Regions from separate parts of the Homo sapiens genome. Here region 2 is linked to region 1. The links come from fine-mapping of genetic effects on gene expression. A gene starts in region 1. The other region holds a variant in brackets. All regions are shown on one strand. Distances are between the middles of the regions.

The links.
Region 2: its variant is fine-mapped to the expression of AMMECR1L in whole blood (INTERVAL, PIP 0.96).

The regions. Positions count from the first base shown.
Region 1 is chr2:127,878,931-127,890,606 of GRCh38, forward strand. It overlaps AMMECR1L (AMMECR1 like), which reads right to left and starts at 7,026. Exons shown (of 8, transcript NM_001199140.2): 1 at 6,880-7,026; 2 at 5,273-5,382. LOC107985944 (a long non-coding RNA gene) reads left to right here and starts at 8,188. Exons shown (of 2, transcript XR_001739707.2): 1 at 8,188-10,438. It also overlaps the pseudogene LOC107985803. RefSeq lists enhancers at 6,897-7,492, 7,277-7,356, 7,367-7,626 and silencers at 6,917-6,966, 6,977-7,146, 7,857-7,906.
Region 2 is chr2:127,857,807-127,869,482 of GRCh38, forward strand. AMMECR1L (AMMECR1 like) reads right to left here. Exons shown (of 8, transcript NM_001199140.2): 6 at 11,648-11,676; 7 at 9,094-9,190; 8 at 3,824-7,399. The coding sequence ends at 7,288. It overlaps POLR2D (RNA polymerase II subunit D), which reads right to left and starts at 349. Exons shown (of 4, transcript NM_004805.4): 1 at 222-349. The coding sequence starts at 294. It also overlaps the pseudogene LOC107985803. RefSeq lists a silencer at 184-493. The variant GATAAAATAAA/G (reference allele first, on the strand shown) is at 5,059.

The DNA.
Region 1 (11,676 bases):
GGAAATTTCAAACATGACCAAAGTGGAGAAAATAGTATACTCCACAAATAGTATAATGAGCCCAATATTTAAAAATTTCCAACCTATGGCCAATCTTACTTCATCTATACCTCTGTGCATTACCTACTCTCTCCACCTCCCATCCCTCTATGGAATTATTTAAGGCAGTTTTTTGAGGGGTCCAATATTTTACTTATCTGCCAACAAAAAGCAAATATTAACTTGATACAGTTTGCGTGTTTGTCGCCACCCAAGTCTCATGCTGAATTGTAATCCCCAGTGTTAGCTGTGGGGCCTGGTGGGAGCTGACTGGATCACGGGGGTGGATTTCTCATGAATGATTTAGGACCAACCTTTGGTGCTGCACTCCTGATAGTGATGACAGTGAGCGCCTTCTCTCAAGATCTGGGCATTTAAAAGTGTGTGGCACCTCCTCCCAACTCTCTCCTGCTCCTGCATTTGTTATGTTATGTGCCCGCTCCTGCTTTGCCTTCCGCCATGAGTAAAACCTCCAAGGCCTCCCCAGAAGCAGATGCTGCTATGCTGTCTGTACAGCCTGCAGAACCCTGAGCCAATTAAGCCTTTTTTTTAAATAAGTTACCAGTCCCAGGTATTTATAGCAATGCAAAAATGGACTAATATATAACAACTACAGGCAAAGAATGTAAACCAAGGTGCTGGTAATAAACAAAGACTTCTTAAACATCAACCACTATCAACAAATTTCATCGAAATTTTCTCTTTAGGTTCGAGATTCTCTAGTCCTATTCCAACAATGTAGGTATCTCATCCACAACTAAGTAGTTCCCGACTCAGCTCTCAGCACTGCCCTACAGTGATCAAGAGACACCTGGTCCTCCAGCAGCCCGGCTTTGTGAGTACTAGGTAAGGTACTTCAGAATAATAGCATTCTAATAGATCAGACTATCCTTCTGATCAGCCAAAAACAAATGCTCCACTTAATGACATACTTACCTCTTCTAAATCTGTGCCCGCCAAACTTCCCTGCCAAACTTTATAAAAACTACCAAGGATGGTACTGTGAGCATAGTACAAATTACTGTGAAGCTGGTTCATTTGAAATAAGAGAAGCCAGGCGCAGGAGCTCACGCCTGTAATCCCTACACTTAGAGAGGCAGAGGCAGGCGGATAGCTTGAGCCCTGGAGTTTGAGACCTGCCTGGGCAACACAGTAAGATCCCATTCTCCACAAAAACGGAAGGAAAAAGACAAAGTTTGAAATCAGGTGTAAAAACCCTTGCTTTATGAAAGTATATATAACCAAGACCCTTCCAGGCCTTCAGCTGGTTACTTGCACAAAGCTCAGCTCAAGGGCCATGGTGAGAGTCCCTTTTCTTCCTGTTCATCCATTAGGACCACCAATAAGAATAAGCTAGTTAAAACTAGGTTTCCACCAGATGGAAACAATACTCATACCTCAACAAAAAGCTGGCAGAAATCACAGCAACCACTGTTTTACCTCTTAAGACCTCCTAACCTTGCAGGTGTCAAATAAAGTGTGCCCTTAGTGCTTAAAGTCACCAGCCTTCCTCAGTGATGCTGCGGCGTCCTCATCTGCCCTGTGCTTGCAGGACGTTCTCTCTTCTCCACCTGATGTACACACTCAAGGGGGCCCTGAACTTCATTAGGGCCTGCAACAAGGGCCACTCAGTGACTCTTCCTCCCTCTCTGTGGGGACGCTGAGCACTGCCCTGCTATTTGGAGCAGCTTACAACTTAAAAATTTCAGCCAGCACTGAACTCGGCATCACCCTGAGCCTGAGAGGCCGCAGGGCATCTGTTTCATCTTTCACTGCACCTAACATGGTGCCCTACATACAGTATACACACACACACACACACACACACACTCCTGATTGTCACCAACAATCTTATCTACACATCTAATAATTTAAGTTTGCCTGCTGACAGTGGAGTATCGCAGAACCTGAGGATGACTGAATTACAAGCACCTATTCTTATCAACAATCTCCATTCTATTCAGCCCAAACCAAGGGATAGTTTAATAATTATTCATAGCAAAATGGATAGCCACTGTGGATAATTCATTTTAAAAATTAGGTCAACTATCACCTAAATTCACTTCTTGGTCCAATGTATGCTGGTAGCTGTCATCCTTGCTAAAACATACCAGTAGCTGTCAGTTCTGAACTGGCTTCAGGTGCCACTTCGAGGTGGCTCAAGGCTTTCTTTTGATAGGTCAGACAATCTAAACTGCAGTTGGGAAGAATCATTTTTTCCTTTTTCAATGATAGAGCACTTTCAGAACTACCCACTGGAGAATTTATTTGCCTGGGTGGCCATTTGTGGTTTCAGGGATTAATACAAACTATTTCTCATACACTGCTAGTATTTACAAACCAGGTATTGAGACTGCTATTGACACAAAGATGTGATGATGCCCCCACTCATGTGTCTGGCTGGGCAAAAGGACCTTCCTCTCTCACTGCAGGTCCCTTCCAAGGCTACTAAGTCCACTGAAAAAAATAACTCCCATTTTCCCAGAGCAGCTCCCCTCTTCAGGGGACAGAACCTAGATTTTGAGGTTACAATCTCAGCTCAGATCCCAAGTCTGACTTGCCACGTACCAGCTACGCAACTCAGGCAAGTTTTCACATCTCTGTGGACTTGGGCTCCTGCTACCACAGAGGTTTATTTGTGAGCTGTGAAAGACACGAAAAGCACCTGGCAGTTCTGTGGCACATAACTACTATCTATTAAGTGTCTGCTGTTACCAATACTTCCCTACCCCACTGATAAAAGTAGCGTTGGTTATAAAAATAACACAGCTCTGAGTGCTTACAATTTCTAGAGGAATAATGCCCTCCTAATACAATTCCATTAAGAATGACCTTGTAATCTAAAAGATCATATTATTAACATGGGATTATTACTCTCATGACCTTGATGGTTTCCTTCTTTGGAGAGCAATGGCTTCTAATAAATCATCCACTGTTTCTTTTCATTCTGAGATGCCAGAAAACACAGAGAAAAATACTTGGCTGCCTTGAGAGTTGTACAGTTTTATTCCACTAGAGTCCTCATTTAAGCTTACAGACATACACTAAAATAGAGACTAAATTTGCTTAAAATGCTATTATTGTAGACATCTTGATAGATACTGAATACCAATTTTAAAAACTGTTGTCAAAGTAGTTAGGTTTCACACAACCACCAGATTAAAATATCTAGAAAAGCCTAAAGGTGGGGGGAAAAATCTAGATTCACCTTTTGAAGACAAGCCTCAAAACAGCTTATTCGAGGGCACGATCTCATAAAGATTTGGGAGGTGGGAAAAAGGCCAAGAAAAAGGGGGTCTCTGCATTTTCTTCTGTTATCATTTAGCATTTAGATGTTTGCTCAAATCAAGCTTTTCACAGAAGGGAACAAGCTGTTGTTTCCTTTGTGACACAGAGTTGACTTGAAATTCAATTTAATAATTACATTATGGGTACTGAAATGGCACCTGAGCTATAATTCTGTCCTACTTATGGAACTATTCCAGGAAACAGTCAGAAAAACCCACATACATTCTGGTAACCATACCAAATAATCATTTATTTTTGAAACCCCCATCATACACACATCCAAAACATTTGGTGTGTGAAAATTTTCCCCCACAAATCACAGATATACCTATACAATTGTTCCTTTTTGTTTTGGAGACAGGGTCTCCGTCTGCGGTCCAGGCTGGAGTGCAGTGGTACAATCACAGCTCAATGCGGCTTTGAACTTCTGTGCTCAAGAGATCCTCCTGCCTCAGCCTCCCAAGTAGCTGGGACCACCGCCATGCACCACCACACTCGGCCAATTTTTAAAAATTTTTTCCTTTTGTAGAGACAGGGTCTCCTTATGTTACTAAGCTGGTTTTGAACTTCTGGCTTCAAGCAATCCTCCTGCCTTGGCTTCCCAGTTTTGGGATTTACACAGGCATGAGTGACTGTGCCCAGAATTTTTTTTTTTTTTTTTTTTTTAAAGAGATGAAGTCTTGCTATGCTGCCCAGGCTGAAGTGGCTATTTACAGGGCTCAAGCGATCCTCCTGCCTCAGCTTCTCAAGTTGCTGGGGCTACAGATGCACGCCACCATGCCTGGCAACAATTGTTTTTAAGCTTTATAGATTTTTAAAAACATAAAGAACTGCAAATTTCTTTTCTTTTTTTTTTTTTAGACAGAGTCTCGCTCTGTCGTCAGGCTGGAGTACAGTGGCATGATCTCAGCTCACTGCAACCTCCACCTCCCGGGTTCAAGCGATTCTCCTGCCTCAGCCTCCCAAGTAGCTGAGGACTACAGGCACATGCCACCACACCTGGCTAATTTTTGTATTTTCAGTAGAGACGGGGTTTCACCATGTTGGCCAGGATGTCTTGATCTCTTGACCTCGTTATCCACCTGCCTCGGCCTCCCAAAGTGCTGGGATTACAGGCTTGAGCCACTGCGCCTGGCCAGAACTATACATTTTCATTTCAACTTAGCTTAAAGAAAAACATGTACCTAGGAGTCAAAACTCTTTTCACCTCCCCTCTGTTTTCTATGTGACCTGTAGCAAGGTGCCACATTTTTCTGGGCCTCAGTTCTTTCATTTGTAAAATAAAAACATTTATCCCCTGTGTCCCTCAGAGGGGCTGGGAGGCTTCACCAAGAAGTGAAACACTCTGAAAACTCTCTCCTAAGTGTTAGCATACTATCATTAATCAACTCAAGAGGGCACAGCAGTCATAATTTTTCCCCAGAACTTTGTTTCAAGTTTACAGTGAAAAATTTTAATTATCTTCAAATCTGTGATGGGATTTTCAAGAAAATATCTTCACTATTGCAAATTTAGGACAAAATGTTCCAAAAGTCTCTCAGGACTGAAACTATAGAAAAGAGAACCAATAATTGACTTTGATCAGGAACTGCATTAACCTCTGAGTTAATTACCCTAAAACTTAAGACAACCTCTTTGGTTGTATTGAGAAACTCATTTGGGAAGGGTGAGGAGCCAGACCTTACAAACTAGAAATATAAAGGAAAGATCATGCCACGCCACCACCTAGCTCACTCTAATGGGAGTATGAAAAACAAACTTGCCTTTGCATATTTAAATTATTTTAAAAGGGAACAAGCGGAAAAACTTCATCAACATTAGGACCCCCTCATGGAAGTAGAAAAATACAAATGAAAACACACCTACATCCCAAAATCCTAGCACATGCCTAAAATCAAAAACTACAACGATGCTCTACTCTAAATATGCCCAAGATAATACTCACTGAAAGCAGAAAGTTTGTATTGCCAGAGGAACAGCTACAACAGAGGAGGGGAGCTATTTTGTCTCTGGAATGAATTTTCTTCCTTCCGATTCCATTCCTTCTTCCTGTACCTAAGACGGAAATGCAGGTGCAGTGAACAAACACCCAGGTAGTGCAGAGGTAAGATAGATACGGTTTCTGAAAAATCACAACTCGACAGAGCAATTTCGGGGGGGTGGGGGGCACAGCAAATAGCTAGAGAACAGGCTCTCCTTATTTCAAAACCTTGCAAACTCTAAATCTGAGGCAGCCGTGAAGTCCCATGCCCTGAATCATCTCATCCTTAGCGTCATCAGCAAGAAGGGAGGACACTGAGAATCAAAGGTTTTATTTATTGAACTCGAGCATGAGACGCACATTAAAACTTCCCCACCACAGATGCAGAGCAAAAGTTGCTCTCAGGCCAGAAGAGACCATTTAAAAGCTCTCCGCCGGTTTCAGAACACAAATAAATTTCCCAATCCTCTGCAAAGACAGAACTGAAGAATTACTGGACAGCACGCCAGAGGCAGGGACCTGAGGGCAGGCCATCTTGCTATGCCGGGAGGAGACGGTCACTGTTGCTAAGGGTCATCCATCCTTAGTCTCGAAGAAATCTCTTCCTGATCTCTTCACCAACTCTCCCCACTACTAGAGAATTGAGCTACTCCCAAAGATGTAAGTAAACAGGAGACTGTTTACATCTCCTGTGGGTGGGAGAGGCCCCACCCACTCTATCCTAGGAGAGGGCAGTGAAAGAGGATAAGGCCCAGAGGGATAAGGGTGAGGGAGCATGGCAAGGAGAGGAGTTCAGATCAGGACAGGGAATGTAGGAGGGCAAGGAGTGAAGGGCACAACCCACAGCCTGGGAAAGAGAGGCATGAAACCCAGCGTGTCAGGTGGACGGATCATGGAATGGGGGGCCAGCGGAGGTTAAGGAAGGAGGGCCCAAGAGTAGGGGTGCGAAAAAGAGAAGAGGAGGAGGAGAAAGTGCGCGTGTGAAGAGTGTTAAGAAAACGACAGGACAGAGCGGGGAGGGGAAAAGCGGGCCGAGGGACAGGGTGAAAGGTGAGAAACGAGGGTATGAGGAAAGAGGGTCCGGGGCGCTGGGGAGTTGGGGAGACGATGGAGCGACGGGTAGAGCAGCTTGGGCCGAGCCGCGGGGGTGGAATCCAGACGCCGGGCGGGGGAGGGGGCGGCGGGGCGGCGGGACGGTGGGTGGGGGCCACCAGGCGGCGCCGGAGACCACCAAACTTTACAGCGAGCGAGCCTGCTTCCTGGAGGGAGTGCAGACAAGGACCAGGAGCGGGAGCCGAGCCTCGCGGCCCGGGGCACGGCGCCGCCCGCCCCTCCCCGGCAGTGCCTCCCGACCCCCTGCCCTCCGCTGGGACATGGCCTGAGGCCCCGCCCGCCGCCCGGGACTCCTCCCCCCCGCTGCCCCCGGACCCTCGCCCCAGGACCGCGGGGTCTCTTCCCGGCCCCGCCGCCCGCCCCGGCGAGAACAGGCCCGGCGGGCAAGGCGGCGGCGGACCGAGGGAGGCCTGGCCCGGCAGCGGGGAGAAGGGTGCGGCGCAGCCCGAGTTTCCCACCTTTTCTCCTGGCCCAGACGCGGCTGGGGCGGACGGGACCTCTCGCGCTCTGCCTCCTCCTCTTGCTTCATGGAGCCATGCGCCTGGGTGGGGGCTCCCGAGAGAAGCTGGCCTGCGGGCGGGCCGGACGCGCTGCGCGGACGGGGCGGGGCGAAGGAGGCCGGCGGGCGGAGGAGGAAGCGGCGGGGCGGCGGCGGCGGCGGCGGCCGGGAAGAACTAGAGGTATTCCCCGGGCGGCTGGAGGACTGAGTCGAGCCGGGACCCGAGTCCTCCGGTATCCCAGCAGCCACCGGAGGCAGTGAGGTAATGGAGGAAGAATGTAGGGAGTCCTCCAGTGGACCACACTCCTTCTAGCGAGCCGCGGAAACCATAGAGATCAGGGCTCAGCCGGAGGGCCGGCCCACTGCTGTCACGTGGCCTCCATCCGTGCGCTTTATTGGCTGGTGCTGGCTTTACGGGGTTGAATTTTGGACGCTGCCTGCCATTCGTGGGACCGAGTTTCAGGCAGCTGGAATAAAGAGAGACATCGGGGGAAAGCCGCGAGAAGGCCAGCGTCCCTGGCTGGGAGCAGAGCTAGCCGAGTAGGGCGCCCGGCTGTCAAAACTGGCCGGCGCAGTGCACGCTGGGCCGCCCCGGAGCGGTCGCAGAGCCCGTCGGGAGTCGTAGTCCGGGACGGGCCCGCAGCATTGTCCGCGACGCAGCTCGGGATCCGCGTCGGGTTGTCGGCCGGGTTGCTGCCAGGCACCGTCGAGCGTTAGCCACCCAGCATTGAGCTGCCAGCGGCTGTTCTCCCTAAGCACCCTCGCTCACGTCGCCTCGCCTCGCCTCGCCTGACCGGCCGCAGCCTTGGATACCAGCCTTAAATCGAGCCGACTACGGCCCAGCCCCGCCCGCGGCGAAGTGCGCGGGGTTCGGTGCCAGCCGCTCGCCCCTGGCCGGGCCAGCCTCTTGATGCACCGGGGACGGGCGCGCCCATCCGACTCTTCGAGGGGCGGCAGGGCCCCATCTGTGTCTTTCGCTCTCGAGCCCCCAGCTAGAGTTGGCTTCAGCGGAATACCTACTGTGCAGGATTATTCAACAAGCCGATTGATCACATTCTTCAGCTCTAGCAGTGCAAAGGCTTCACTGAAAAAGAACATTACAAATTTTTTTTGAAAGAAATTTGGGGGTAAATTTAATTTTAAATACTGATTTTTGATAACATTTGATCTTATGACAGCATTTGTATTTTTAATTACAGATAGGATTACACTAAAAGTCATTTCTGACCTGCTCCCTTACCCTTATGGCTAAAATAAACTGCTAGGCCCTGAAGCAAAGGCGAGCCATGTTCTAGAGCAATGTCTTTCTTGTATTAAAATACGGCCCCATGCTCACATATAGGCTGTTTTGTGTTTTGCTTTTCTGTTGATGCACAAAGGAATCCTTGATATGTTTGTCCTCAAAGACCAAAGACAAGTATCTAGTAAAAAATGCAAATCATATCTAACAGTGAAGCTTTCCAGCAAAAACCTTCTGCTCTAGAATGCATAATTATGCGAGCATAAGATCTACTACTCTAGACTTTTAGCATAATTACCTATAGGCAGCAAAACCCTAGTCAATTGAGTGTCTGGTGCCTCTTGGACCTGGACTTCTCCAAGAGAATGGGCAAGGAGGACGAAAAGGAAGAGACAGCTATGCTTTGTGAAACAGGAGGTGACTTAAAAAAAAAATTCTATAGCAGTCTTCTTAATTCCTGTTACAGACTTGATACGCTTATCTGCTGTTGAGGACACGGTTGCCAGTTTCTAACCTTCTCTGTCTGCCTGAAAAACTAGAAATTAGATGATCATATGGCCTAGAGCCAGAAGTGCAGGAGGCAGAAAGCCAGGGGCCAGTTTTTTTCTTTTTGTTTCTGAATAAGAAGGCCAAATCCTGACTTAAAATAATCAAAATAAATTTTACGGAGTGACGGTCTTTCCAGCTGAAAACCTTAAAACATGGCATCTGGAAGAAGGCCTTAGTCTATTGCTCCCAGGATGGTACTATATAGTCATTAAATAGCCCACAGATAAGGGAGTTATTGCCCCCTCGTTATTGGGCTGCCAGGAATTAAATGATGGAACTAAGTTTCACTTGAAACATTCCCAAATTAAAACAAAAACAAGCCTTGCTTTGAGCTGTTGAAAAGGCATTTTACTGAGAAGATCCAGATGCTATTGCTGTTCTTAAATGATGTTGAAAGGCAAAGGGTCAGGACTTTCAAAAAGTCACTTTGAGGTCACCTCACATAAGCAAGCAACAGTTTGAACTGATGCAAAAACAAACAATGAAATTATGAACAGGAGGAAGAAACTAAAATGAGGGCAGTATATGCCATAAATATGGAAGAGGCTGTCTCTTATTTATCTTCTCATTTCCTGTACATAATACAGAAACCTGGTATGTAATAGGCATACAATTATTTGTGGCTCAACTGAATAAACGAAGATGGAAACCAGCAAGCAGCGGGCAGATAATATACTTGGGAAAGGAGAACTGCAGAGACGCTGGGTGGTTCAAGGCTTCTGCATGATCCTCAAATGTCACCCCAATCTGCTGTGACATAGCTATACCACTCATCAGAATACCCCAAAACAAATTGTCTGCCTCCCTTATGTACAACTTTTATTATTTCTTATCTCGGTTGGTTAAGAATATGTAGTAATGGCCGGGCGCGGTGGCTCACGCCTGTAATCCCAGCACTTTGGGAGGCCGAGGCAGGAGGATCACCTGAGGTCAGGAGTTCGAGACCAGCCTCAACATGGAGAAACCCCGTCTCTACTAAAAATACAAAATTAGCCGGGCGTGGTGGTGCATACCTGTAATTCCAGCTACTCGGGAGGCTGAGGCAGGAGAATTGCTTGAACCTGGGAGGCAGAGTTTGCGGTGAGCTGAGATCGCGCCATTGCACTCCATCCAGCCTGGGCAACAAGAGCGAAACTCCATCTCAAAAAAAAAAAAAAAAAAAAAAGAATATGTAGTAATGGTTAAGAGTCCACTGTGGAATCAGCCTGCATAGGTCCAAATCCCAGCCCTGACTGAATACCTGTGAACAAGTTATATCAGTGACTCAGGCTTATTATCTGTAAAATGGGGATTATAGCATTCCTGCCTCATAGGGATGTTATGAGATTTAAATACCAATAAGTCTGTACATTATAAACCTTATCAGATTGGTGTGGTGAAAATGCTCAGTAACTGAGCCTCGTGAGCATTAGAATGTTGAGATCAGCATGAAGTTAGCCTGTATACTGGGCATACACATTCTTCTGGATTTGCTCCTTTTGTGAGCAATCAATGATGAGCTAAAGGCATTTGCTAACTAGTAGGAATGAAATAAGGTTTCAGACAGGATCTTGGTGGGTGATGTAGATTTTATCTGTCCCATTTGTCCCATTTCTCAACTGGAAGTGAGTCTGGCCTTGGTCTGCATCTGTGCTCTCCCCTTCACAAAAGGCAGGCCCAGAGAGACTCCAGAGATGGCCCCTGTCTCCTGTGTGTCCTCCGCCGCTGTGTCCACTTGGGCACGTCAAAGGTATGATCGGTACTTATCTGATGAAAACAAATCTTTGTATATACAGTTGTCTACCTGGGTTGAATATTTCAGAGGTATAAAGTAGTTTAAATAAATAAGCCCTCTAGTGTTTTGTTTGTTAAGCCACATTACTCAGAAGGTTTTCTTTCTTTTTTTTTTTTTTCTGAGACAGGGTTTTGCTTTGTTGCCCAGGCTGGAGTGTGGCTGCAGTGCAGTGGCAGCACGACCATAGCTCACTGCACCCTTTACCTCCTTGGCTCAAGCAGTCCTCCTGTCTCAGCCTCCCAAATAGCTGAGATCACAGGTACGCACGACCACACCCAGCTAATTTTTGTAGAAAATGGAGTCTCCTTATGTTGCCCAGACTGGTCTCCAAACTCCTGGGCTCAAGCAGTCCTCCCACCTTGGCTTCCCAAAGTGTTGGGATTGCAGGCATTAGCCACTGCGCCCAGCCTGAGAAGATGTGTTTTAAACTTTGTATGTCACTTGGGTGTAGAATTTAACATTTAAAAAGTTCTAAACTTTTGGTACTAGCAGCCGGGCGCAGTGGCTCATGCCTGTAATCCCAGCACTTTGGGAGGCCGAAGCGGGCGGATCACAAGGTCAGGAGATTGAGACCATCCTGGCTAACACAGTGAAACCCCGTCTCTACCAAAAATACAAAAAATTAGCCAGGCATGGTGGCGGTTGCCTGTAGTCCCAGCTACTCGGGAGGCCGAGGCAGGAGAATGGCGTGAACCCAGGAGGTGGAGCTTGCAGTGAGCCAAGATCACGCCACTGCACCCCAGCCTGGGCAACAGAGCCAGACTCTGTCTCAAAAAAAAAAAAAAAAAAAAAAACTAGTACTACCAATGAAATAAATGCAACAGAGTTGGAGAGCTCAAGTCACGTATTCATTTATTCTACAAATACTCTCTAAATGGCTACTCTGTAACCAAGCATTTTATATTGCTTTTTTATTGAGAGAGGACATACATGTTTAGAATTCACACAGCTCAAGTATACAGCTTGACCAATTCTTACATTAGTGTCCATCCATGTAACCATCATCCAATTTAAGATGTGGAATATTTCTAGCAGCTCAGAAGGTTCTCTTGTGCCTTCTCCCCGTTCCTAATCCCCTCCAAAAGATACCCATTATTTTGACTTCTATCACTGTGGGATAGTTTTGCCTGCTCTTGAATTCACGGACATTCAAATCGACTCATCCAGTACATACTCCTTTGGGTCTGGTCTGT
Region 2 (11,676 bases), 21 kb before region 1:
CGGAACTTCGCAGTTTATCACATAAAATAACCCAGTTGCCCAGGCGGTCCCTCCCAAGGCCATGGTCCCTCCCAAGGCCATGTTCCCTCCCCAGCCCCACGCCGCGCTGGGGCTTGCCCAAGCCGCCGCTGAGGCAGGGCCTTGGGCGAAGCGCGCATAACGCCAGGCCTGCGGCGACCACGCGAAGTGGCGCGGGGGAGTCTGGCAGCCCCGAGCCCAACCTTTAGGAAAGATGAGCTGTGAGGCGTCCTCCTCTACGTCGCCAGCCCGCGGATCGCTGCCACCCGCCGCCATCGCCGCGCCGCGCCGCGCGCCACCACCAGCGCCGCCGGAAGCAGAAGCGCGGAGCAACGGCCGCGGAAGGGGCGTGGTCTCGGGAGGGGCCCCGAGGGGTGGGCGGGGCCGGGAGTGCGAGCCGGACGGGGCGCAGCGAGGGGACCGGTTGGTGAGGTCCTGGAGGCTCCCCGCCACCGAGGGGCGCCCTGCACTCCCTCTCTTCTCCCATGCTCCTCGCCGCGCAGACGTCCTGGGGCAGGTCCCTACGCCTTTCTGGACGGAGGAGGTCAGATGAGATGCAGGAACGCCTGCTGATGGAGAGCAGGGCAGCCGGCTCCGAAAGTACCGGGTCCAATTTCCTTCACCGACTTAAACTTCTAAAATTTTATTGATTTGTGGTGGATTATCTGATACTTCTGAGTACGCGGACAATGATATTCAGAGGCTTTTACCACACGTCTGTTGGAACATTTGGGTGATGCGTAGAAAATTAAGCAAATGACGGCCGGGCGCAGTGGCTCACGCCTGTAATCCCAGCACTTTGGGAGGCCGAGGCGAGGGGATCACCTGAGGTCAGGAGTTTGAAACCAGCCTGGGCAACATAGTGAAACCCTATCTCTACTAAAAATACAAAAATTAGCCGGGCATGGTGGTGGGCGCTTGTGATCCCAGCTACTGGGGAGGCTGAGGCAGGAGAATCGCTTGAACCCGGGAGGCGGAAGTTGCAGGGAGCTGAGATCGCGCCACTGCACACCAGCCTGGACGACAGAGTAAGACTCCGTCTCAAAAAATATATTAAAAAAAAAAAAAAAGCAAATAAAAAATGATGCTGTTTTCGACACTGGAGAAAACAAAAGGTTGTACAATAAGGTAAATAATCATAGCTTATTAGTCAACAATATCTTAGCTCATTAGTCAACAATGTTTAGATGGTCATATTGTAAACTCTGTTGATTTAATAAAAAATGAATTGTGCCGGGCACGGTGGCTCACGCCTGTAATCCCAGCACTTTGGGAGGCCGAGGCTGGAGGATCGCTTTAGCTCCGGAGTTGAAGACCAGCCTAGACAACATAGTGAGACCTCGTCTCTAAAAAATACAAAAATTAGCCGGGCGTTGTGGCGCGTGCCTGTAGTCACAGGGATCGGGGAGGCCGAGGCGGGTGGATCGCTTGAGGGATGCAGTGAACTATGATTGCCTCACTGCACTCCAGCCTGGGCAACAGAGACCCTGCCAAAAAAAAAAAAAAGGCAAAGTCCAGGCGCGGGGGCTCACGCCTGTAATCCCAGTACTTTGGGAGGCCGGTGGGGGTGGGGGGGGCAGATCACCTGAGGTCAGGAGTTCGAAAGCAGCCTGGCCAACATGGTGAAATCACGTCTCTACAGAAAAAAAAAAAAAAAAAAAAAGCCGGGGCGTGGTGGCGGGCGCCTTTAATCCCAGCTACTCGGGAGGCTGAGGCGGAGGTTGCAGTGAGCCGAGATCGCGCCACTGCATTCCAGCCTGGGCGACAGCGACAGAGTGAGACTCTGTCTCAAATAATAATTTTTAAAAAGACTTAAAAAATTAAAAAGTAAAAATTTTAAAACTAAAGAAAAAGAAAACCTTTAGAAGGCAGTCCTGGGAATCCTGTCTGGCCTGTGCAGCCTGATCTCCTGCGAGGGCTCGTCCACAGCGTCTTGCTGTCTTGCAGTGCCGGCAATGTGGTCTCCCACCACCTGAGAAGTTCCCTCCTCCAGGGCATGCTCTTTGCTTCAGCACTGCTTCTCTAAGGAACCTGCCCAGACCTGAAGGGCTGGCCACGCCCCCTTTCACGTGCTCAGAGAAGCTGAAGGTTCCGGAGGGTTTGATGCTTGCCGGTGTTCCCTTGTACACCCAGCACTGAGTGACAGGCCAGATAACCACAGCTGCCCAGCCACTGCACCATGTGCTGGGGTCTGGGCAAAACATTTACTATTTTTACTTTTTACCTATGACTTCTCTAAGGTCAGGTTACTTTGGAGATTCACAGTCCTGTCACAAAGTAGGAAATGCCTTATAAATGGCAGGACCAAGATTTGCGCTTAGGCCTGTGGGACTGCCAGCCAGAAAAGATTCTAGCTGTCACCCGCCCTGGGTTATTTCTTTGGTTGGGAGCCACGATGTGATCACAGAATAGCCATACTGGGGGAGGGGGTCTGATTGGCAGCAGGAACTTGAGGGACTGATGGTGAACTGGAGACCTCTCTTTTCTGTTTTCCAATAGTTTCGAAATTGCAGTCCTCCCCCCACCAATTTTCCAGGGCATACAGAATCTGTGTGAGTAGAAATAATGCATAAGCGGCAGGAAGAGGCCCTTGAATCCTTGTCTGAGCTTGATTTTAATGAGGAAAACAGACACAGAAGGGACAGGACTTGCATTACATTCCTCAGGCTGCTACTCTGATTCTTGTACAGCATTGGTTCAGTCAAGCCATTCAACCAGCCCACTTAGTATTTCAGTCAGATTATTCAAGCCAAGGTTACAGACCTAGATTGATCTAAAAGCAGCTGTAGAGCACCTCCCCCACCCCCACTCCCACAATTAGCACCACTGACCTCTGATCAGATGGTTTATTTCACACTCCAGAAGTCAACAGTGATGGCTAAAATTACAAATGTTGTTTTATCACCAATCACACTCTCCCCCAAAATCAGTCATAGGCAACTCTACGCTGTTTAATTACAGGTACTATGGAATGTAATCTCTAGAACATTAATTTCTCTTGAAGAAACGAATTCCTCTTCACACACATCAGTTATTAACAAAGCCTGTAAACGTCTAACCAGCTGCTGGTAGTCAGTTTTCAAAATTACCTAACCCTGATAGCACGTTTTTATCTGTAGCCATGTGTTTTTGAGCTTTGCTAAGCGCTAAGGGCCTCAGAATTGAGTACCTTAAAAAAAAATTCTACCTCCCTGCAAATAGTGTGTCAACTGCTGATCTTTGGGTGGGTTGGGTTAGTGGGCTGGAGCCAGGGAGGGACAAGCAGACCCCAGGGTGCTGCCCAGATGGAATACTGAATTATTTTTGCCAAGTTAAAAAAAAAAAAAAGCGTAAACTGAAGATGTCCTTTCCTCCAAACACATCTCATCTTTTCTGGGCCATCCAAAAACAAAACTTCACTGGTTAGGTCAGACTGCACCAGTATGTCCCAGGGTCTTTGCTTGAATTAATTAACATCACCAAATTATATTAAATTTTAGTGTTTTTTTCCTCTCCAAGAGATTTTGGCTTTTTTTGGTAAGGTCAGTCTCATTTGAAAATCTAACAAAAACAACGAACCTGTCTGGAAAAACCCAAATCTTAAAGGGCTAATGAATGATTGCTCATGGAACTTGGCTCTAAAACACCAGTGACATTGCCACCAACCATAAAAATATACACAAGGGTGGGGTCACGAGCACCACACAAAATATCCAAGCTGACCGAATACTATCTTGTTGCCTGTCTTCAAAAATAAAACAACTGTTATCACCATTCCATATAAATCAAGTCACATGGTTAAAAAAGAAAAAGCAGAACAAAACGATTTTTATCCATTATGATTTATTCTCTACAATACTTCGTTAAAGTGTTCAATGATTTGCACTCAGAAGTTATATAGCCAAGAGGCAACCAAGTGTAATACAAAGAATTGGTCTGAAGTCTTTGCACTGAAGGCCATATAGTCTCTTGCTTCAGGGAAGTAAGAACGAAATGAACAAAAAGAACACATAGCTCCCTAGGCTCCAGAATCTCAATAGAAAATAACGTCAACAGTTAGTGAAATTGTAGATGTCAACACATCATGGAAAACAGATCTTGTGCAAAATATTAACACCCAGGACTTCTTTTGTATAGATGATTTTTATTATAAACAATAAAATATATGTAATGTCTCAACTACAAACCTTTCATGTTGAAAGGGTCTCTAACATGAGTTGTTTTATTATTATGAAGCAAAAAAGTTTTAAGAATCTCACAGTGGAAATAATCCAACACCGACAGACTCTAGTGATCAAAGACATTCTCTTTTAATGTAAAACAAGGACAATTCATAATTACAGAGAGAATGTCCTAGCTGTGGGTATTATGAGACAAGCCAACTTTCCAGACCAAAAGGCACTCACAGCTAGGGATGAAACGAACTCCGAACCAAGCCAGAGAAATTGGGCTGGTCCTTGAAAACAGTGGTTACCTACTGTCCAGCTCGAGCAGCCCAAGGACAAAGGAAACACTCAGCAGAAAACATTCCCTTTTCTTTAAACCTACCACGCACACCGCAGGTACTGGCCGCCCTCATCACTGCTTTGGTCAAGCGTGCAGAGAAGGCAGTTCAGTTCCAGTTCGGAGCTATCCTCTCCCTATGCAAAGCTGCCACATGGATGATCCAGACTTGGTATTTTTCCTGAGAGCCACCTGCTACACACTTTCATGAGGCGACCGTGACCGTACACTTCTAGACCGCTTCCTGACTAGGCCCCGTTCAGGACGGATACTGACAATGCCCATTCCTCACGGGGCCAAATGGTTTCCCTTGGTCGACTCCTGAGTCCCCTGACAAAGCAAGAGGAACCCAAGCATTTCCATTGCTGGACTTGTGTGGGAGCATGAGGGAATGTGCAGGGAGTAAGGCTTCTTCACTCCAAAAACCACTGAGCCCACTTCAGTGTGGTGCTGGGCCTAACCAGCCCAATTCTTGTGCACTGATTTTTTTTTCCCCATTTCTCGGGTTTTAAAATTTTCTATTCATTTTCTTAAATGGCAGGTATCGTACCCCCCCTC[GATAAAATAAA/G]ATAAAATAAAATAAAATAATAAAATAAAATAACATACCATACATTGGAGAAGACAAATAGGGCAACATTTCTACAAGAAAAAATCGGCTTGAGGAGCATGGCACTGTAAATGCTTGCATGACCAGTCTCACTGAGCGTGCTCAGGGGTGAAGGTTTAGCACCAATTTTTTTGCTTTTTTTAATCTTTAGAAATTAAACACAACTCTTAACATAGAACACTTGAACAGTAATGAGTGTAGCCCTATGTATCAATACTGTTGTACAAATTGGAGGTGGGTGGCTTAGTCCAGAGCTGACCACCCTGACATCGATCCATGGCACCTAAGAGTAACCGTTGCCACGTTTTTAACAAGACATTTATTCTCAGCAGCAGGAAATCACGAAACGACCCCTCCATCTTCATTTACATTGCCAAGGGAAACGTAGCAGGCTGCAGGAACCCAGCACAGCAGTGAAGGGCCGCAGCCTAGGCACCGTCACCCACGTTTCCCTCGCACGTCCCAGGTCCTCTCGAGCAGCACAGGACGGTGTGGAGCAAACCCACTCACCCTTGCCCATCCCTTCCCACAAACTTGCCAGCGATGCCTAGAACAGCACAGGTGTCCTTTCTCAGATTGTGCCCCCACTCCCCTTCCCCATTCCTGACAGAAGAAAATGCAAAAGATCTTCTGAATATTTGCCCATTTCGGAAAGCCACACCATCACCACATAAACTTCAAAAAATAAATTAAATAAAAACATGTTCACTGGGTTGACACCCAATCCACTTCATGAGTTCTCTAAGCATGTTGTTGAAAACCAGTGTCACATCCTTAGGATCCTTCTTCCAACTGGCCACTCTCCCTGTGAATCATTTTAGCAGTGCCTTTGTAACAATATTTTCAAAGCATCTTCCAAGTCCCCTAGTTCTATGAACTTTGCCACCAAATGAGTGAAGAATAGGCAAGGAGAGAGGAAAAAATTGCTGACAGCGATTTGGAAATCAGCAACAATGGGAAAGGGAAATATGTCACATGAAAGTTTGAAAGACCTAGAATAAAATGAGCTATTTGGAAATTTGCCCTGGTGGGGTGAAGATTCCCAGCATGTCAGGCAAGATAAAGGTCCACCTTGTGTAATTACACAACTGTTTCCTAATGTCCTGTAAAGGACAGAAACACCAACAGTCTTCCCACCTCTACAGGCAAACTAGAAAAAGGAGCTCCCCTGCTTACAGGCCCCTCAGGATGTCACCTGAAAAGAAAACCAGCTTACAGACCCTGGATTCTCTCCTATGATGTGTCCTCCTAAAGCCCAACTCAATCGCTTGTTTGCACATCTACGCTTCTGAGAACTTAGGTCCAGCTATAGGCACTGCTACCAGCAGAGGAGTGAGGTAGCCAGGCGGTGCAGAAGAGGTCTCTCCTCTCACACCTGCGTGCAGTGATGACATCAGGACCTCCTGTGGGCATCTCCATTCCATTCCATTCCTCAGCAGGCTACATGACGGAGCTCTGTTCAGTAATCAGGAGACTCAATGCAGGAAGAGTGCCAGAAAATCCAACTGAGAGTGGGATGAGGATGAAAATCTTCACGGCCTACTGAGCAATGAGATCTGCAACGCCACCCAAAGGGCTTCCGATCTTGATGTGGGTCTCTGTCCAGGAGCCTCAAAGGACTCGTGGTGCCCACGTCCAACCCTAACGTGGCGTCCGCTTATGAAGCATGGAGGTTGTAATCAACTCTTGGTACGCAATAAACTGGAAGTTTAAAAAAAGGAATTTAAAACAACCTAAAAATGTTTCTTGGTCTCCGTTGCCCAGACTGCCAGGGGAATACACCTACTTCATCTGGGGAGGCTGCAGGGGTGTGTGTGGGTTCAACCTTCAGGGATCATCAATTTCAGCTTCCAGCGTGTGGCCAATACCCCATGTGGCAAATACCAGACAAGGGTCTTCTGAACCCACAGTAATTCCCACTAGTCATGGAGGAGCCCCAATCCAACGGAACCCCATATTGAGGAAAGGCTGAGATAAGGCTTGGGCCCCTCAAGTTCTGTTTCGTTCAAGGTAACCCTACCCTCCCTCAGTCAGCGGGAGGCAGACTTGGCAACGGAAGCTAGCATCATAAAATGGTGCAGTAATAGAAGTAACTGGACCAGGAAGAGGAGGCATCTGCTCCAATGATGTCATAGCCATTGGTGGCCACGGGGGGGTGGGACTGGTCATGCAGCCGTGTGTCAGGAGTAATGATTGTAGAGGGGCGGGGCATGAAGAGTGCCGTTCTGGAAACAGTGCTGTCGGGAAGCAATATACTCTGCGTAACTGATTGTCACCTTCTCACTTCGGTACCTGTATGAGGAAACAGGAAAGGGTATTAGGAACCCCAAACGCTTCATTTTGTAAAGTCACTCAGCAGAGAAAAACCAAAAGCTTATTCCACATTTTGAAAGAATAAAATGGAAGACCAAGAGCAATCTTACTTACAGAAAATGAAAGACAGCACAAGAAAACAATGTTGTTATTACAAATGAACAAGATGAAAAAGCACAATCACAATTCCCCCGAGAATGTGTTTCAGCACATCCCACCTTGAAACACTACACGTGCTTATCATCAGGCTGCTCGTAAGCAATCCGCTACTGGGGTCTGGATGAAGAATTTCAAGGTCAAATTACTCGGGTGGCAGATTGGAAGATGGCTGCACCAAAACCCAGTGCAAACTGCACATCTACTTCCAGAGTAAATGTGATACATTTGACAGAAATGCAACCTCAATTCGCGTAAGAGCAACAAACAAGTTATTATAACTAAAAGGGACACAGATACCTAATTCTGGGTCAAAGTCTGCTGAAGCAGGTTAAAGGATCCTTGGGGCTATATAGGTCTCACTCCCCAGATGAATATGCCATATCACAGGGTCGTCAGAACAGAATTCATAGCACTTTGGCTGTGCTCTGGAAAGAGCCATGAGTCAGGATGCGAAGCATGGGGTGTTACAAACCTATGGAGCCTACTACAGACCACAGGAGCTGGGTGTGACAATCCTTACCCAGAGCCATCTCTTTCCCACTGTAATCACTCCTCCACTGCAAGGTGATTATTCCTGAATTTTGACAGGGAAATGGCTGTTCAAATAAATTATAATAATAATAATAATGCTTTGTATTTGAAGAGTTTTTTGTTGTTTTTTAAAAATTTTTGGAATCCAAAGCATTTAAAAAACACTGGGTCATCTTCCAAACAGACCTGTGAGATTAGTATATGATTATTCAGCATTTTACAGATGAGGGGCCCAAAAGAGGCCCACAAAAGCCCATAGAAGCTAAACCTCTCAGTGTTTCTGATTTCAATAGGGATGAGAAGAGAACTAACATCTCCTGATCACCTACAATGTTGACTGGCCACAGGCTAGAAATTTTCCATACATTACCTTAGCACAGCCTCAAACAACTCTAAGGTATTATCATTCACATCTTACAGACAGGGAACAGGCTCAGAGAGGCAGAATAACTGGCTCAGGTCACACAGCTAGTACATGTTGAGCTGGGATTCCAACTCCAAGTCCATCTGCATTCTACTACACTAGGCAGCCTCCTCCTAGAAGTATTCCCCACAAATGAGAGGCATTTCCTTTTAACTTTTTGTAAAAGCATTTTCTTACTCTCCTGTATCTCCTGCCGTCTGACTACATGTGCAGTCAGAAAGCAGCACCTCAACTGACTCTGGACTTCCAGAGAGCCTTGTCTCCTAATCTCAGTCTCCCCCTCAGCCTCCCAACCACGTGGGTCTGGCAAAGCCATCCACAGCCTGCAGGGCAGACCTGCCCTGCTCCAACTGTGCCCCCAGCTCAGCTATGGAGACACACAGGATGCTGGGAGAGTCTCTGCCTTTGCTGCCACTGCTTCCTCAAAATGTGAACTTCACCCACACTTCTTTGATTTAGGGACATTCACAGAGAACACTTCTTCTCCATCCCATCAAAATTATCCTCCATTCAACCCCAACTAAATTGAAATGATAAGGAAAACAAGACAATGGCTTACCTGGTGAGTTTGATCGTTTTTCTGAATTCACTGGTAATTGGAGCTTTAAAGCCACCTTTCCTGAGCAAGGAGTCTATTGTCTGGATCTGATCCCAGTCTGGGGAGGAGAAAGGCCACACTGAGGTCAATGCACATGCAAGAGTAAGGCATGCTCTCACATGGCCCGTGCAAGAAGAGAAATGGGACTCGAGAAGCAGCCGAGTCTGCTAAGGCAGAGGAAGCCCTGGGCACTGACCCCCACGTACCTGGCGCCCAGTCTGTCTGCCAGTCCCGTGGAGACTCTGAGACATGAGATGATAGCCCGACACATGCCATAATGGCTGTCCCCAGGCTCCCTGCTCCTGCGTCCTTCCTGTCAGATGTTACCCCAGTATAATTATCTAGGAACAAACATGGTTCCAACTTAGACCAGCCTATTGGCCTAGTGCTGGTACCCAAGGCTGCTCTGTGGGAAGAGAGGAATTTAAATTCTGCAACTTATATTCCTTTGTGTGATCTTCCTTCAATCTGATGATTTTTGGAGTCCTGTTTTCTATGGTAAAAAATTGACAGTGAGAAAGAAGCTGGCTGGGTGTGGTGGCTCACACCTGTAATCCCAGCACTTTGGGAGGCTGAGGCAGGAGGATCACTTGAGCCCATGAGTTCAAGGACAGCCTAGGCAATATGGTTAAACCTCATCCCTACTAAGAACGCAAAAATTAAGTGAGCGTGTGGGATGCGCCTGTAGTCCCAGCTACTCAGGAGGCTGAGGTGGGAGAATCATCTGAGCCCAGGAGGTCAAGACTGCAGTGAGCCAGGATCACACCACCGCACTCCAGCCTGGGTGACAGGAGGAGACCCTGTCTTAAGGAAGAAATAAAAAGGGAAAGACAGGAAGAGGAAGAGGAAGAGGAAGGAAAGGAAGGAAGGAAGGAAGGAGCTGTTCCTTCAGGAAGGGCAGACAAGTTGCTCATGCATATACTATTGTTATTCTTGCACATTCTTTTTTTTGAGACAGGTTCTCACTCCTGTCACCCAGGCTGAAGCGCAGTGGCGCAATATTGGCTCACTGCAACCTCCACCTCCCAGGCTCATGTGATCCTCCCACCTCAGCCACCCAACTAGCTGTTGACTGTCAGGTGTGTGCCACCACACCCAGCTGAATTTGTATTTTTTGTAGAGACGAGGTTTCGCCACCAGACTAGTCTTGAACTCCTGGGCTCCAGTATCCACCTACCTTGCCCTCCCAAAGTGCTGGGATCACAGATGTGAGCAAACGTGCCCAGCCTCATTCTTAACAGATAAAACCAACTTCATCAAATTGAAAAACCAAAGAAAATCCCCTAAATTACTATGCTAGGTGCTCCGAAGTTTTTATTTTTCCAACCAACTTTCAAATGGCAAAAGTAATTTAATTATTTACTTAAGTTATTATTTACACCTCCCCATTACAAAACATGGTATGCCTCCTTGTACAGAGTGTGTTAGGTTTATGACCTAAAAGAGGTGGCTAAAAGGTTTGCTATTATGCCACATATACACTGCTCTTGAAAAAGTTTAAGCACAAGCAAAATAAAAACCAACCAGGCAATCGTTTTCCATGTTTGCTCATGATATACACTTCACCGGGTATTTTTTCTCTATTCTAGGCTCATACCCAACAAATACTGTGTTTCACATATTATTTTCAAAATCAGACTAATTCCAAGAAAGAAGGAAAACTGCACTACGTATCACAGAATGCACAAGCAACATGTAAAGGTACCCTTCTAGATATTCTTTTAAAGACAAAATCTGCTCGATCCACCCTACCTTTAACGTCCCCATCAGAAGAACTTATAGGCTACTGAGTTTTTTTTTTTTTGGAGATGGAGGCTCGCTCTGTCACCAGGCTGGAGTGTAATGGCACGATCTTGGCTCACTGCAACCTCTGCCTCCTGGGTTCAAGTGATTCTCCTGCCTCAGCCTCCTGAGTAGCTGGGTCTACAGGCATGCACCACCATGCCCAGCTAATTTTTATATTTTTAGTAGAGACGGGGTTTCACCATGCTGGCCAGGATGGTCTCAATCTCTTGACCTTGTGATCCGCCCACCTTGGCCTCCCAAAATGCTGGGATTATAGGAGTAAGCCACCACGCCTGGCCGACTACTGAGTTCTTTAAAAAACAGTAGGGACTATGTTTACACCCTTTGCCATGTATAATATTGTTTAATGATTTGTGATCCAAAGTTCGGTACCTACTGAATTCTACAATATGGTCAGGTTGATTGGTGGTATTTTGCTACAATTGCCACTGTAGTTTAAGGGGCTAAGAAATAAAACTATTCATTGAAAAGAAGTGTTTGAAATATCAGGCGAGTAAGTGAACGATTTACCCTTTTGCTTTTCCCAGCTCCTAAACCTTTTTGGAAGTTTACCCTTGGTTCTATAGGAATTTGACAGGTATTAAGAGGCAGAAAGGCCCTCATTCTCAGCTGCAGTTGGGCTGCAAGATGACACACTTCACTTTCTTGCCCTTTAACTGGCACCACTGTGAATGATACTTGTCATTAAAATCCCATTCATCCAACTCACCTTGTTCCTTAGCAACCTCAGGTAAATAT